Regions from separate parts of the Homo sapiens genome. Here regions 2, 3 and 4 are each reported to be linked to region 1. Evidence: microRNA targets listed by miRTarBase, many of them from high-throughput screens and not tested one by one. Region 1 holds a microRNA gene; each other region holds the end of a gene's coding sequence.

Region 1 (4,150 bases):
AAGACAGTTGGGGTTCCTAACACTGACTGCTCATTAGAATGCCCTGGGGAATTTAAGAATGCAGATTCCTGGGCCCCACCCTGAGAGATTCTTAATTAACTAATAATTATTAATCTATGCTTTATTTAACTTTTCAGAGGGCTCTGTTCTCAGGGCACCAAGAGACCTCCCTGCCCTAAAAATTGCTATGATTAGTCCTCACATAAACCCTTGTGCTCACCACCCTGGGGTCTGTTGCCCTCTCCATCTCACTCCTCCTCCACCTTCATGAATTTCCCTCCACTTTCCAAGCCCAACAAGCACCCCTGTTACCTCCTTCTCCTCTACCCCTCCTCCAGGAAACCTTACCTGGACTCTGTATCCTATACCCATACCCTTGCCACCTGACCCTCAAGGCCCATTTCTAACAGACAAGTCACTAGACCCTTGCCTCACCCCTCCCACCTGTTCTTTTCTCACACGTGTGTCCTGTCTTGCCTGAACACTTTAAGCTTTTGAAAGGAGCCAAGCATGGCCTGCTGCTCAGGTCCCCTGGTCCCCTTGATCCCTCATCAGCACTCCAAGCGTCCTCACCTTGACATCCCCAATCTGGTGCATGGCGCAAGGCAGGTTGTTCATCTGGTCCAGAAAGGCCCGGAGCTCAGTCAGGGTCATCTGTAGACCAGCCACCCTGTGGGGGCTATGAAGTATCACATGTGAGGTTTCAGGTCCAAACTCAGTGCCTTCCCTCCATGTCTATGCTAAGACTGAACACCTTTCCTCACTACACCTGTCCACCTTGATCTCGCATATTTCAAATTTGCCCCAATTGCCCAGGTTAGAGGGAAGGTTTTAAATTATAGAGCATGTTCATATTATGAGGGGAAAGAATTAGAAACTAATGGGTTGTAATAAGAGCTACACTTTGCAATCCATCCTCTACTGTGAACTCTAAAGCTGTGTTAGCAGGGATCAGGTCTATACATCTTTGTCCTGTTCTTACCCGTAAGCCTCCCACAACTCTTCCCTGCCCACAAAACCCCTCAGCCTCTCTCTCAGGCCACTTCCAGGTACTGATAAAAAATAAACACTTCTAGCTTTCTTATCACAGAGGCTCTCCTCTCCTTTTTAGGTGGCCTGGTCTCCTTGTCCCCCCCAACACCTTCCAGGCCATCTCACACTCTTGTGCCTGGCAGCTTCCTGCTGATGTCCATTCTGCCAAATGGTATTCACAGTCTACCCCTTGCAGCACTTTTCCTCGGTGCTGGATCCTCAGCACCTTATGTGTGCCCTAACTCCTCACGCTGTCATACCCAGCTTCCTGGCCGCTGACCAGTCCCAGAGCTCGGGACACGCAAGCCTCTGCCTCACTCAGGCAGTTCTTTAGTTGCTGCAGCAGCTCACTATTAGGAAACCTCCGCTCACGGGCTTCAGACTCTAGTGCCCTCAGTTCTTCAAGGCCTGGAAGAAAAATGAGGGCAGCAAAGAGTAGGCAGTATTGAATAGAGGCAGAGGAAGGGGGTCAGAGTACAGAAGAAAGGGAATAGAACTTGCCTGTGGAGTCCCTCCATCCCCCCCATCACTCACTGCGCTTCCGCCCATCCTCCACCTCCAGGGCCACTCGCACTTTGTTGGCCCAGGTGTCAAAGGACTCAGCCCGAACCTTCAGCTTATGCAGCATGGCAGGAAGCTCATCCAAGGTATACCGATACCTGGAGGAAGAGGGCAGGCAAGAGCATGTCTGGCCCAGCTCTCCATCCTCCTTCTTGCCCCACTTCCTCCAGAAAGGCCCATGCTCACCGCAGGTACTGCCGGCTACTGGAGCACTTGCAGAGATCATTGATGTGGGAAAGGCAGACAAGGCCGTCTGGGCAGTCGTAGCAGGCCAGGGCTGACAGGAAACACGTAGTCTTGCACTTGATACACTGGCGCTCATCATCTGGGAGCAGCTCGAAAGCCTCTCGCTCAGCCTCTGTGATACCCTAAGGGCATTTAACCTATGCGTTATATATAACCAGAACCAGGTAGCAAAATCCTCCATCTCAGCCACCACCGACCCCTACTTTAGATTCAAATCTATGCTGAGGGTCATGGGGTTTAAGAGGCCAAACCCCAGGGAGCATACCTGCCCTTTGTAAAGTCTAGACTCTCAAAGCTTGGGGAATCAGATAAACCAGGGCAAGATCAGTGTGCGCTGAGTCAGATAATTTTATAGAGGAAGAAAAATCAGGTAAGATCCAGATCAGCAGAAAGGGTCTTGTGGGTGAGAAGTGAGGAAAGTGGTGGACCAAGATACCAGAGAGGTGGCAATGAGTGCAAGTGGCCAAGGGACAGGCCTGGCTAGTTATGTGTACTGGGGAACAATATCGGCTTCCAGTTACTCAGAGCCCACTGTGTTCCAGGCACCACGCTGGCCACTTAGTAGGCAGGAGATACTTGTGCACATATATAACTTAGAGAAATTCAACCGTATGTGCTTGTGTTCAGGGTTTAAAGAGATATAATAATTTTCTCCCAACAATATGGTTTCCAAACCTAATCCAATGACTTCATCTGTTGCTCAGATAAAGAAAAAGCAATCCATTTCAAAAATGAAGGAAAAGCTGGCTATATTGGAGTAATCGAGAGACAACCCAGTGTGTATATCTAATGGGCAATTTTAGGGATTTTAATGGGAAATGTCAACTCTTAACAGTTTTTGTCTTACATACCAACTTTAACACCTAATCTCTGCATAAGTTATGAGCCCAAATCCCACTCTGCCACTTATATGCTGTGTGATCATGAGTAAATCATTTAACGTCTCTGGGTCTGTTTCATTATCTAGTAAGATGGAGATAAACAGTATCATCCTTGTTGGGTTGTTATGAGGATTAACAAAAATAAAGCAGCTATGGAATCAGACAAGTATCTCAGCACTTAGATTCAGTGTTCATCAAATATTTACTGTTATTAGCTCTAATTTTCAGATAAGAATATATATTCCACAGGCCTATCTCATTTTACTAAGGCAGAAACTAAGTCTCAGGGTCAGTAACTTGCCAAACTGAGTTAATTTTGACTCTAAAGCCAGAGAATATTCTAAGGATGAAGTCTCTAGGGTTTTTTTGGACTACAGACTCCTGAGAATTGGATGTAAACTATAAGTCCTCTTCCCAGAAACATACTTAAATACACATACAATCTCTTACAGGATTCCAAGACTATGGTGTCCAGAATGCTTCTCTGAGGTAAGGGCCAAGTGTGAAGAATTCTGAATGTCAAGATGAGAAGGTCTATTCTCCCCACCTTGCTTTGGCTCCTTCCCACAGCTTGGCACAGCCACACGGCCATCATTTAATAACAGTACTGAACAGAGTGAGAAAATGATGCCTGGAAAAGCCCAGGGACTCAACAACTTACACCACGACTGAGAGGCCCCAGACTTCCAACACTACTGTAGCTATAGTTCTCCCTATAGCCCACACTCACAGGAAAGCTATAAATGAGCTTTAAAATAAGAAAGTATTACCCTAGATAGGCAGCAAGGGATCCCACAGAACCAGCACTCCTTTGTAATCTTATGAAAGACTCTCACAAAGTCAATTCCCTAACTGGGCAAGTGTGAAATTTGAAGATGATGGCTGAAACTACACGAGTGGACTTTAGAGCTCTGTAGCAGCTTCCACTCAGCTACACACACAACTGACACAAGCTTACAAGAAATCAATTAAAGCAGGACCACCTTCAGCTTGGTAATATTATTGCCCTAGCTGGAGTTAATAAACCATCTGCATGTAATAAAATGGCAATTCCTGAGAAACATTCCAAATTTCAATCAGTTTCTTCATGTATTAACATTACCAATAATAGCAGCTGCAACATTGCAAAGGCAATGTTAGAGAGATGGCTTTCATATAAATCACCTTACTCTAACCTTACATCTTGCAAGTTAGGTATTTATTCCCACTTTAGAGTAGGAAAGTGAGATATGAAAGATCAAGTAACTTGATACAGTCACCTAGATAATCAGCAGTGAGGTTTCATATGCCAGTCTATTTTGCTAGGTCATGTAAATAATGATAAATAGCTGCTATACCAGTACCTGCCATGGGTCAGTCACTAAGCAAACATTATCTTTAATACAATCAACTATCCAAAAAGATAAGCATTATCATAATCCCATTTTTCA
Region 2 (4,000 bases), not on the chromosome of region 1:
CAATATGATAGTGTTCAAGAATGTCTTCTCCAAGTGTTAGAAAACTAGACAAACGTCTGGGCGCCAGGGAATCTGACAGCCAAGGTCTTGATGAGCACCTGCACCTGTGTGGCATTTACTGTGGTGGGACTTGGGCCCGTCGCTCCCTGATGCCCAGCTTCTTGGTGACCTTACCTTTTTCCTTCCTCTTCTATTGCAGCTAAAGCAGCAGCACACCCTTCTGTACAAGGTGAATGGAATCCTCACGCTGGCCACCTTCCTTTCCTGCCGGATCCTTCTCTTCCCCTTCATGTACTGGTCCTATGGCCGCCAGCAGGGACTAAGCCTGCTCCAAGTACCCTTCAGCATCCCATTCTACTGCAACGTGGCCAATGCCTTCCTCGTAGCTCCTCAGATCTACTGGTTCTGTCTGCTGTGCAGGAAGGCAGTCCGGCTCTTTGACACTCCCCAAGCCAAAAAGGATGGCTAAATGCTCCTGGGAGTCAGGCGCAGCCTCACACCAGCTGCCTCCTCCACTCAGCATTCCATGGACCAAATTGTGCCCTGGGTAGCCTCAGACTTTGGGTATTGATAAGCCGATGGATTTGAGTTTTTCTAAAGAATATTCATATTACCTCCTTCTTCTAACTTGCCCTATTTGCAAAAGCACTTTTGTAGTAACAACTATTGGGTCCTGTCAGACCTCCACGGACAGCAAAGTGGTTTTAATGCAAGCCCAAGGATCCTTCTTAAGGTCTTATCTCAAGAGCTCTGGGAGGTGGAAGCATGGGGTGGGATCGGTGGACCAGGGTGGTAAGTGTCTGCACATCTGCCTGTCCCTGTATCAGCGGCTACCCACCTTCCAAACCACTCAGGACAGTACCCGTGGCACTGGGCCCGCAGAAGCAAGGGATGACTTGGTTCTTGGAAGTAATGTCGTCTTGTGACATTGGCCTGGGACAATCATTGTGGGTAGGTAGTTATTGATCGTTTACTAGATAACCCATTGGTTCTTTGCCTCATCCTCTCATCCATGGGTCAGAGTTGAATTCTTATGTCTATAGACTTCCAATCAGAAGTCTCACTGGTGGGGCTGGGGGTGGGGGCAGGCAGGAGGCATGGATGGGAACCTGAGTAGGTAGTGTGGCCAAGAGATCAGCACAACCTTTGCAGGCTGACTTGCTAAGTCTGACAGTGACAAACTTGTGAGCTTACTGCAGTCAGTCACAGAGGCTGTTCTTTTTCACACACCCCTTCATGCCCGGCTTTCCCCATATCCACATGCAGAGGGCGAGCTCATAAAACTACAGGGAAGCGTGAAATGATGGCTTTGGTAGCTGTTTACTGGGTAACCCCACTGTGACACTGTCCTTTTCATGTGATGTGGAAACCTACTTCTGTCCTCCAAACCATGAAATGTGTCATCTAGACTGCAGAGTACTTGAGTGCTTTGCCTCCCGATATGCCAGAGCTTGTGGTCCAAAGCCCATTCCTGTGTGTCCGTCCTGCCATTTAGCCACAGAAGGCTGCGGAGTGAGGCGGCAGCTAGCCTGGCCAGTGGCTGTCCCGTGGACCGACACCTGCGCCCCCTTCTGCAAGCAGGATTTTCTGGTGCCAACACTCATTCATCATTCCCGATCAACTAGGATGAATTTAAGACTGTGCTACCATGTGTTCTCAAGTGGTAGTTTAAAAAGTGGATTTTTAAAGTGCCTTTCAATTGTCTGTGAACGTCTAAAGGACTGATTTGTCTCATTTTGACTGTTGAGTCTTTAATGGGTGCCATTTAAAAAACAAAATGCTATTTTTTAATTGTCTTTTTTTTTTAACTATCAGTGTATCTTTAAAAGTCACCCTTACGGTGATTAAATTGCACTAACATTCCCAACTTATTCTCATTTGTGAAATACATCAATATCAGTGTCCTGTAAGAATCATCCTGTGACCTAGCTCGACTGGCTGCCGTGTGCTGTGGCTCAAGGTCTGTGTCCATGTAACTAGCAGAGGGGTGTGTGTGTGAATGCTTTCAGCCTCCAGAAAGGTCTAGCTCACACCTCACTCAAACCTATTTTTGTGGTTCATGGTCTCAGTAATACATTGAAGGTTCCCAGAGTTCAAGCGTAGTGGTCACACGTAACTTGAGACCGTTTCTTCTCTTCATAAGTGAATCTTACTAGGAATTGGGAGAGTGGAAGACCGATTATTGGTCAGGGAGCCAAGCCTACTTTACCTGAGGAGAACCTGAGTAATGCCCCATTGTGAAGGAGGGTGTGGATATGGAGGGAGTGATGGGACATATTTTTTCCCCCTTTCATCTCACACATTAAACATGTCCCCAGCCAATTTTCATAGTTTCCTCATACCTCAGACACCTTAAACTCATTTTTTTTTCTTTTTGTAGAGACAGGTTATCTCTGTTGCCCAGGCTGGTCTCAAACTCCTGGCCTCAAGTGATCCTCCTGCCTCAGCCTCCCAAAGCACTGGGATTATTACAGGTGTGAGCCACCATGCCTAGCCCACTCTCAATTTTTTTTTTTTTTGTTTTAGACAGGGTCTCACTCTGTCACCAAGGCTGGAGTGCAGTGGTCTGATCTCAGCTTACTGCAGCCTCTACCTCCCAGGATCAAGTGAGCCTCCTGCTTTAGAACCCTGAGTAGCTGGGACTACAGCTGTGTGTCACCACACCTAGCTAATTTTTGTGGTTTTTTTTTTGTAGAGACAGGGCTTCCATATGTTGGCTGGTCTCAAGTGATCCTCCCGCCTCGGCCTCCCAAAGTGCTGAGATTACAGGTGTGAGTCACCGCACCTGGCCCAAACTCATTTTTTATGTTCCTGCACACATCATTCCCTTATCCAAACCATTCATTCATCCAAATCTTGACAACCCCTCCTGAGGCAAAAGCTAACGTGACCCATCCATTCAGCACATCTCTGCTGGGTTTGCCAGGTCTCGTCTTCACAGTAGCCCCTTTGGGGGTGACTGAATAGATGGAGTTAAGACTGTATGGGAAGTGGGTGTGCTTATTGTCCCAGCTACTCAGGAGGCTGAGGTGGGAGGATCACTTGAGTCCAGGGGTTCAAGGCTAGTCTGAGCAACAAAGACTGTACACACTCCTCAATTCAGAGGGGACCCATTTTCTTGAGGTCACTAACCTAGCCCCTCGCCACTGAGTTTATCTTGGTCCTCCAATCCTCTCATTTTAGAATTGTGCAGGCCTCTCGGGCACAGCAGTCTCATGGCCAGAGGCAGAGCCAGGGCTGGACTGGATTCTTTTCCAAGCTGCTGTCCTTTCCAAGATACCTCAAGAAAAAAACATTAAAAGACGAAATAACTCTTGAAGGGGGTTATACGTACCATGTAATGCTTTTTCCACTCACATGGTTTCAACTTTGGGCTTATTTGCCAAAATCTAGGATGGAAAAGTCCAGTTATGAACATGTTCCTCCTGGCTGGATTTGATCTTGAAGACACTAAACCCAATTTCAGAGCATATTTAATCCTGGGCTATTGCTGAGGCCGACTTAGAAGAGACAAAGTGAGATGCGAAAGAGGAGAATTTTTATGATAGTTTGTACGTTACAAATACCCAAGAAACTATTTTCTTTACACCATTATTGCCATGACTTTTTGTGGACAGTTTCACATAACTGTAAAGTCCAGGCTGCTCGGGTCTGACCCCTACAGACCTGCCATGTTGAAGCCCAGCTTTTTCGCTCCCGCACAGGTAAGAAGCTGCTGATCTTCTGCAGACCCGCCATGTTGGGGCCCAGCTCCCCACGCCAAGTCAGAAGCTGCTCATCTTCTGCAACAGGGTTTGGCGCCGTTCTTCAGGGCCGATGCCCTCAGCAATGGACTTTAAGAAGCGCTGCTCGTGTGCCCTCTGGAGCAAGGAGCTGACAGAAGGGTTGGTCTTGCTCAAAGTCTCATAGCAGGTGAGGGTTTCCAAGGCTAAAACGTAGAGTGGCTCACAGACCTCCGGGTGGAGCATGGCCATGATGTGCAGAGCATGGCAGAACACCT
Region 3 (4,000 bases), not on the chromosome of region 1:
CCAGGCCTAAAAAATTTTTTCAAGCAAAGTAAAACAAACAAAAGCCACTTAAAGCCACACCAATGGTATTTAAGGATATTATGGACCCCTCCATGGTTATCTGCCCAAGGAAGCTAATGCCACAATAGAAGCCAATGAAGATCACAACACTGGTGCCAGGGGCAGCCCTGATCACAGTGGACAAAATATAATCCAAGTCCAGCAACAAGGTGGCTAAGGACCTATTTACTGACACTGCACCGTAAGTAAAAATGAGAACTGTAACACCTCCTAGCAACAAAGCAAGTGTAAAGAAAATGATGCTGAAATGAACACAGCAGAACTCATCCTTCCTTATCCACTCTCAAAACATACATACAGGAATATGGAAAATGCTGCATGGGGATGGTGAAGACAGGAAAAGGTTTACCAGGCTGGAAATTGTTTGCGTTTTTTTTTTTTTTTTTTTTTTTTGAGATGTTTTGCTCGTCGCCTAGGCTGGAGTGCAATGGCGCGATCTCGGCTCGCTGCAACCTCCGCCTCCCTGGTTCAAGTGATTATCCTGCCTCAGCCTCCTGAGTAGCTGGGATTACAGGCGCACGCCACCACACCTGGCTAATTTTTGTATTTTTTAGTAGAGACGGGGTTTTGTCATGTTGGCCAGGTTGGTCTCGAACTCCTGACCACAGGTGACCTGCCCACTTTGGCCTCCCAAAATGCTGGGATTGCAGGGTGTGAGCCTCTCACTGCACTCAGTCTGTTTGTAACTTTTTTTTTTTTTTCCGAGACAGAAGATCTTGCTCTGTCACCCAGGCTGGAGTGCACTGGCACGATCTCAGCTCACTGCAACCTCCACCTCCTGGGTTTTTAAGCAATTCTCTGCCTCAGCCTCCTGAGTAGCTGGGATTACAGGGGGCATGCCACCACACCCAGCTAATTTTTGCATTTTTAGTAGAGACGGGGTTTCACCATCTTGGCCAGGCTGTTCTTGAACTCCTGACCTCGTGATCCACCTGCCTCGGCCTCCCAAAGTGCTGGGAGCCACCGCGCTGGCCTCTGTTTGCAATTCGTAAAAATGCTGTCATCAGCCTTTAATGGTGTGTGTGCAGACTGCACAAAGAAAAGTGGATGAGAAGACAGAAAACACACACGGTGATGATACCCACAGCAACAGGTGCTCTCAGGCACTCAGCCGCATTCGAGTTCATTGAAACTTACAACAACCTTAGGCACACACTACTTGCAGGCCGATTTTAGAGATGTGGAAACTGAGGCTTGGAGAGGAGAAAGCAATTAGCCAAGGTCCCTCTCAGAATGAGCTGAGATGGGATTTGTACTCACACCTAACTGACCCAGAACATTAGTGCTTAAACACTGTGAGACACTAGGCACCCAAACTTCAAACTCTGATAACCTCTGGTGCCAGTAAAGTTCTTGAAAAGCTTCCTTAAGAGACACAACCATGAGATTCCATTTTTAAAATGTACAGCAGCCACCAACCAGCATCTGAAAAAGCCACGCTGCTATTATTAACAATGAGACAACAGTTCTCTGGAGAAAAAGAGGACTATTGAAACAAAACCTCAATGACAGGATTCTCTTCTGAGAGCACGATTCATCCCCATAATGGACAAATGCCTCGCCTCATTGAGACCTCCGCGCCAGTCTGAATAAGGCAGGAAGGTTTCTTCACACCATTCATCTGGCCTGTGAGGGACCCAGCCAAGATCTTGGCGTGCCTGTTCTGACAGCGACACCGGCCTCAGCAAAGCCAGACCCAGCAGCTCCGATCTCTGCTACTTACAGACCTTGGGGTGATGCTTGGCTGAGATTTGGCAAGGAAATGAATTGCAGAAGTGATCAAGGAGAATTCCACAACCTGAGAGGCAGCAAAAGTGGACTTGACCCTGGTCTAGCAAGAGCCCACCATTAGCAATGACTCTTTCAATACTTTCAGGAGCAGCTCCAGTCAAAATTCCACTTACTCAATTCTTTTTTTTTTTTTTTTTTTGAGACAGAATCTCATTGTCTCACCCAGGCTGAAGTGCAGTGGCTCAATCTCAGCTCACTGCAACCTCCGCCTCCCAGATTTAAGCAATTCTTGTGCCTCAGCCACCCGAGTAGCTGGGATTATAGGCGTGTGCCACCATATCTGGCTAATTTTTCTATTTTTAGTAGAGATGCGATTTCACCATGTTGGCCAGGCTAGTTTCGAACTCCTGACCTCAAGTGATCCGCCTACCTCGGCCTCCCAAAGTGCTGGGATTACAGGTATGAGCCACTGCGCGCAGCCCCACTTGCCCAATTCTTGACCATCATTTATTGAGCTAAATCCAAAAAGGAAACTCTACCACTGACTCTTTTCTTTCTCATGGCCTCCAAAATGAATCCTAGGTTTTTCCAGCAGGGTAAATTCAAAAGGACTCAGGTTGGAAATTGACTTCTTGGTTAAAAAAAAAAAAAAAGTATAAACAAAAGGTCCTTTTTAGAAATGAGGTTTATTTTCAAGGCTACTCAGTCCTAAAAGCCTGCATATTTACTTTTTTTCCTTCCTCCAGGTTTACCTCCAAGTCAGGATTTCAAAAACCACCAACATTCAGGCTCATTCTTATTGGTATAAACAAACAAACAAAAAAACCAGACAACAAAAAACTCAACAAGCAAATCACACAGTTGTGGGATTCAGCGCCAACCCCGGGCGTTTCATTTTGGCAACAAAACCAGGATTCCCTTTCAAAGAAGCTTCTGGAAAATGCTGTATTTCCTAGATGAAGGCCCCTGGTTTTTCAACCTCAAAATCACCTACTCAAAAAGCAGACTCAGAAACCCAAGGTTTTAGAACATGGTCCCAATGTACCACATCATAAAATCACTCTCATTCCTGCAACTGTACAATGAATGGCTCCCAAAGTCATTTTATTTAACAAAGGGGTCAAGGCAGAGGAAAGTTTCCCTTAATATCCCCACAACTGCTCCACATGTCTTCTGTGGAAACACTTCACCAGGAACTAGCTCAACACTCTTGCTAACAATTTAGTGTCTATACAGGAAGGCTGGTGTCTCTGTTACAGGTGGCCCGTTCCTTAAAGCCTTTAGGGTTAATCGCAGCTGCACTGAGTGGCCAAGCAGACCCTGTTGGGATGTGAAAGCAGTTTGTTAACAGGGCCCCTGGCCGGGCCCAGAGGCTGTCAGACTCAGCAAGTAACACTGAATGTCCAAAAATACGGCTGTGTTAAACTAACAAGCCAATCCTTCTGCTCAGATCTCTGGATAGAAATGATTTTTCTTTTATCTATGGGGAATGCAATTTCATCACAGCCCCTTACATAAACGCTCCTGAAACCCTTTCAGTAGACAGCATTTCAATTCAGAGACCAAAGTGAAACTATCTTTGAAAACAGGGACGTGGCTGGGAAACCATGCACACCTCGGCGAACACTTTTCCACCCACCACGAGCTTGGACTTTCTGGGAAGGTTGTCGGTTTTCTGGTCAAAAACATTCTTGAAGTCATCAGGAATGGAGGAATGGAGACTCGGCATCCCGGGAAAGTGAGTTCCTGGTTTCATCGCTGGGATTCAAGAGCCGAACAGCCTGGAGAAGTCAGAGGGCAGAAATGTCTGTGAGGATAGGAGGTGACTGTTCTAAAAATATTGTCAGCGATTATTTTACATGACTATTACCTATTACTTAGATGATTTTACATGATTGTCTGATTTTTTAAAGTAACCTGTGATCCACCTGTGAATATAATTAACAATACTGAACTACACAGTTAAAAGAAGAATATACTCTTTTTTTTTTTTTAGACAGAGTCTGGCTCTGCCGCCCAGGCTGGAGTACAGTGGTGCGATCTCAGCTCGCTGCAACCTCTGCATCCGAGATTCAAGCGATTCTCCTGCCTCAACCTGCTGAGTAGCTGCAATTACAGGCGCCTGCCACCAAGCCAGATTAATTTTTGTATTTTTAGTAGAAATGGGGTTTCACCATGTTGGCTGGGCTGGTTTCGAACTCCTGACCTC
Region 4 (4,000 bases), not on the chromosome of region 1:
CAGGGGCTGGTGTATACCATAACCGATGTGCTGGAGCTACACGACTGGATGTGCACTCATTTCGAAGAGCACCCACTGTTTGAGCGTGTGCCTCTGGAGGACCTGGTGAGTAGGGGACCTAGAGGAGGTGGAGGCCCTTTCCAGAGTGGTTCTGTATTTGGACTTAACTCAGTGCCAGGAGGATGGGATAGGTGTCTAAGGGCCAGGGGCAGTCTGAACAGTGGGCAAGGACTTATTGGACCCTTCCTTCTCCCAGAGTGAAGACCCCGTTGTGGGACATCTAGGCACCTCAACTGAGGAGGGGAAGAAAGTTCTACGTAATGGAGGGAAGAATTTCCCAGCCATCTTCCGAAGAATACAAGATCCCGTCCTCCAGGCAGTGACCTCCCAAACCAGCCTGCCTGGTCACTGACTGCTTACTCTACCTTAGCTGGACCTCGTCTCCCAGGGATTAGAGAAAAGAGCAGGAGTCCTGGGTCTTCCCAGTTGAGACTGCTGGAGCTGAGACACAGTACTCTCTTAAAGAAGGTGGGGAGCTGCCCAGGGCAGAACCCACTGGTGTTCATGACTACCCCTGGCTCCTCTCACCTTGTCCCTCCACTGCCAACAGAAAACAAAGCAGCTGACTGAGATGGTCAAAGGACTTTGGACCATAGGGGATCTTTGGAAGGCTGTGGGGTCTTGCTCTTCCTTAGCACTCCTTTCTCCTTGTGAGATCTCTCCTCAGCTGGAATGAGGAATGTAGTCCATCTAAACTGCTTGCTAGGCTCAATTACCACTTCTGTTTGCTTTGTGGATCCTGGGATAACATGTATATGTGTACACATGCCTATTCTGCCATTTCTCAGGAAAGGGTGGAGTATGTATCATATGCCTTCTACCATCCTCCTGTCCTCTCCCTGCGTAAGACTTGACCTGGGGAATCTGTGTTCCCTAAGTGTTGTCTCTGGAGAGTCCTTGGGAAGGTGTGGGGGTGGAGACCCTCTCCTTTTTCACATTGACCTTCAATTCCAGAACTTCAGAGCTAGCTGACTGGCACAGAGCCTGATAGAGTTGCAGTGGGGAATGAGGGAGTAAGGAGCAGAGAGGTAAACTGTGGGAGATTCTTTTATTTTAATTTTTTTTAGAGACAGGCCCTCTCTCTGTTGCCTAGGCTGGAGTGCAGTGGTACAATCATAACTCACTGCAGCCTTGACCTCCCGGGCTCATGTAATCCACCTCAGCCTCTCAAGGCACTACAGGCATACGCCACCATGCCTGGCTAATTTTTGTATTTTTTGTAGAGACAGTTCCACTATGTTGCCCAGGCTGGTCTCAGACTCCTGAGCTCAAGCAGTCTGCCCACCTTAGCCTCCCAAAGTGTTGGGATTACAGTCATGAGCTGCCGTGCCCAGCCTAATTTTTAAACTTCTTCTGTAGAGACAGTCTTGCTATGTTGCTCAAGCTTGTCTCAACCTCCTGGCCTCATGCCATCCTCCTGCCTCAGCCTCCCAAAGTGCTGGGATTATAGGCATGAGCCACCACAGGATTCTGAGGCTAAAAGTAGAAAGGAGCTGCTAACCAGAAAGCCCCCCAGAGGAGACCGAGTCAGCTGGGGAATTAGAACATCCACATCCATTTAGCTCCTCTAACACCCCACAGACAATCTCTGAACTTAACTAATGTACAAAAAGTTTCATTTCTGCTTCTCAAGCCCCAAATTCCCATGTCTGGAAGGAGGGGGCTTGTATACCCAAGAGACCCCCTTATCCTCAAGAAAGAAAGATGGAGGTTCTAGGAGCCATTTTAGCCCATTAACCCACCTGCCATCTGCCCAGTATATGTTAGGTACAGGAGGAGGGGGAGGTGTGGCTAGTGCAGGAAAATAATGCAGAGAAGATACAACCCACTAAGCCAAGAATGTGGGGACAGTTACAGCTGTGCCTCCCCTGCTTCCCTTCCTGGAGGAGCTGAAAGATGGGGAATTCCTGAGGATGGGCCTAAAGGGGCTGGGCTCACTGGTAGAAGTGGGAATATCAGAGACTGACTAGTGTAGCTTGGTCACCTAGTCCCTACTAAAAAGCCTTATAGCCTTTCCTAGGATGAGACTTTGAGGCTCCTAGACAAAGGCACTCTCCCAGGAGGAAAATCTTAGGCCCTCCCTCCCATGAGGGTCATTGCAACATGAGACCCAAGGGAGTTGTGAAGTCAGCCCCAGCCCCGCCTACTGTTCCTGGGTGCTAATCCCCAGCACAGACCACTCAGGAGGAGGGATTGGCTGAGGAGCTTGGAGAGGGGGCGTCATCACCTCACCCAAAGGTTAAATAGGGGTTGAGATATGATGCTCAGGAGAAGCGCTTTCTTTCGCGAGCACCCTGAACCAGACCATGACCCAGACCCTCAAGTACGCCTCCAGAGTGTTCCATCGCGTCCGCTGGGCGCCCGAGTTGGGCGCCTCCCTAGGCTACCGAGAGTACCACTCAGCACGCCGGAGCTTGGCAGACATCCCAGGCCCCTCTACGCCCAGCTTTCTGGCCGAACTTTTCTGCAAGGGGGGGCTGTCGAGGCTACACGAGCTGCAGGTAGGAAGGGACGCCTTTCCCGAGACAGAGTGCTGGGGAAACTGGTTTTGACAGCGTCAGAAAGGACTGACTAGTGCAGAGCAAATGTGGGACAGCCAGAGAGAACGGATGCCCATGAAATAAGGAAAAGGCGAGTTGAGGCTGGGGGCGGTGTGGCTACACTCGGGCAGAGCCCGTCCCGACTCTTAGCAGAGGGCGCTGCGAAAGCGCCTTCTCGCTGTCCTGAGGTGTGGAGATCCTGCAGATAAAGTACAAGTGCGCGGGAGGGGGAGGCCGGAGTGGGCAGTACCCTCCGCCTGCTTGCGGCTTAAAGCTACATGGGTTCCTTTTCATTCACTGAGGACTCGTCCTGAGATGGACAGTCCAGACATGGAACTTTTAGAGATTTCTCCTCGACCGAGATGATCAGAGAGGTCCTGAATGTCTGCCTTGCACAAAGTTCCGGTTTTGCCCATCACACTCAAACTTTCTAGGGATGGGAAATGAGAGAGGAGGAGTTTGCAGTATCAAAGGCATACACTAGTTGGGCACCCGAGAAAGAGCAGAAGCTCCCTATTCCCAAGCCCAGTCAACGCCCTTGGCGTGGGCACAGGTCAAGCTGAAAGTCCCCGCCCAGGTATCCAAGTGTCCGCTGTGTCCGCTCCCCCAGGTGCAGGGCGCCGCGCACTTCGGGCCGGTGTGGCTAGCCAGCTTTGGGACAGTGCGCACCGTGTACGTGGCTGCCCCTGCACTCGTCGAGGAGCTGCTGCGACAGGAGGGACCCCGGCCCGAGCGCTGCAGCTTCTCGCCCTGGACGGAGCACCGCCGCTGCCGCCAGCGGGCTTGCGGACTGCTCACTGCGTGAGTCTTCTCTGCCCCCAGAAGCCCAGACGCCCTGCAGCGGCCCTCTCCTGCTGCGGGTCCCGAAACTATCAATCTGGGGGCATGGTGGGAGGTCGGCTGTCCCACTCTACCATTGGGCATCTTGGGGTTCCCATCCCAGTCTGCTTCACCCACACTCAGGTTGAGCCCCAACCTCACTCCCCGCCTACCTCCTTATCCTTTGAGGCCCGAATCCTGGGAACTGGGGGAACCGGAGGAATTGGGCTAGGGTACAAGGATCTGGATGGAATGAATGTAAGGTTCTGTGACTCAAGTTACCCGGGAACCCCGGCCCCTGAGGGCAGGAAATGAGTAAAGAGGAAGGGGGCTGGAAGACAGGCGCAGGCCGGTGCAGGTTTCCGTACCCCAAGGGGGCAGACGCAATCCCTCTCCTGGCCACCGCAGCCGAACGCGCTCCTTCACTGCAGCCAGTCCCGTCGAGCCGTCCCCACCTTCCCGATGCGCACTCTCTCCTCAACCCTGCAGGGAAGGCGAAGAATGGCAAAGGCTCCGCAGTCTCCTGGCCCCGCTCCTCCTCCGGCCTCAAGCGGCCGCCCGCTACGCCGGAACCCTGAACA

Evidence for each region. The annotated mature microRNA hsa-miR-6894-5p reads AGGAGGAUGGAGAGCUGGGCCAGA and lies in region 1 at 1,720-1,743, opposite strand. An mRNA with a match to its seed (bases 2 to 7 or 8) in the 3' UTR can be bound and repressed. Matches are read on the target gene's strand: a 7mer-m8 pairs with bases 2 to 8, a 7mer-A1 pairs with bases 2 to 7 and ends in A, and an 8mer does both.
Region 2: the mRNA of GEMIN4 is a reported target of hsa-miR-6894-5p. The part of its 3' UTR that is shown has no 7-base or 8-base seed match.
Region 3: the mRNA of SMIM7 is a reported target of hsa-miR-6894-5p. Seed matches in the 3' UTR shown: 7mer-A1 at 3,499-3,505.
Region 4: miRTarBase lists METTL1 as a target of hsa-miR-6894-5p. Seed matches in the 3' UTR shown: 7mer-m8 at 883-889.

Annotation. Positions count from the first base shown.
Region 1 is chrX:53,197,198-53,201,347 of GRCh38, forward strand. It overlaps MIR6894 (microRNA 6894), which reads right to left and starts at 1,748; the gene lies at 1,692-1,748. KDM5C (lysine demethylase 5C) reads right to left here. Exons shown (of 26, transcript NM_004187.5): 15 at 1,780-1,961; 16 at 1,567-1,691; 17 at 1,293-1,440; 18 at 574-679.
Region 2 is chr17:741,102-745,101 of GRCh38, forward strand. GEMIN4 (gem nuclear organelle associated protein 4) reads right to left here. Exons shown (of 2, transcript NM_015721.3): 2 at 3,320-4,000. The coding sequence ends at 3,765. It overlaps TLCD3A (TLC domain containing 3A), which reads left to right. Exons shown (of 5, transcript NM_024792.3): 5 at 200-1,867. The coding sequence ends at 469. Among named protein-coding and RNA genes, the nearest start is that of GEMIN4, 9.2 kb to the right of the region's middle.
Region 3 is chr19:16,643,690-16,647,689 of GRCh38, forward strand. SMIM7 (small integral membrane protein 7) reads right to left here. Exons shown (of 5, transcript NM_024104.4): 5 at 2,459-3,572. The coding sequence ends at 3,557. Among named protein-coding and RNA genes, the nearest start is that of SMIM7, 14 kb to the right of the region's middle.
Region 4 is chr12:57,765,408-57,769,407 of GRCh38, reverse strand. It overlaps METTL1 (methyltransferase 1, tRNA methylguanosine), which reads left to right. Exons shown (of 6, transcript NM_005371.6): 5 at 4-105; 6 at 257-937. The coding sequence ends at 412. CYP27B1 (cytochrome P450 family 27 subfamily B member 1) reads left to right here and starts at 2,330. Exons shown (of 9, transcript NM_000785.4): 1 at 2,330-2,561; 2 at 3,211-3,401; 3 at 3,909-4,000. The coding sequence starts at 2,367.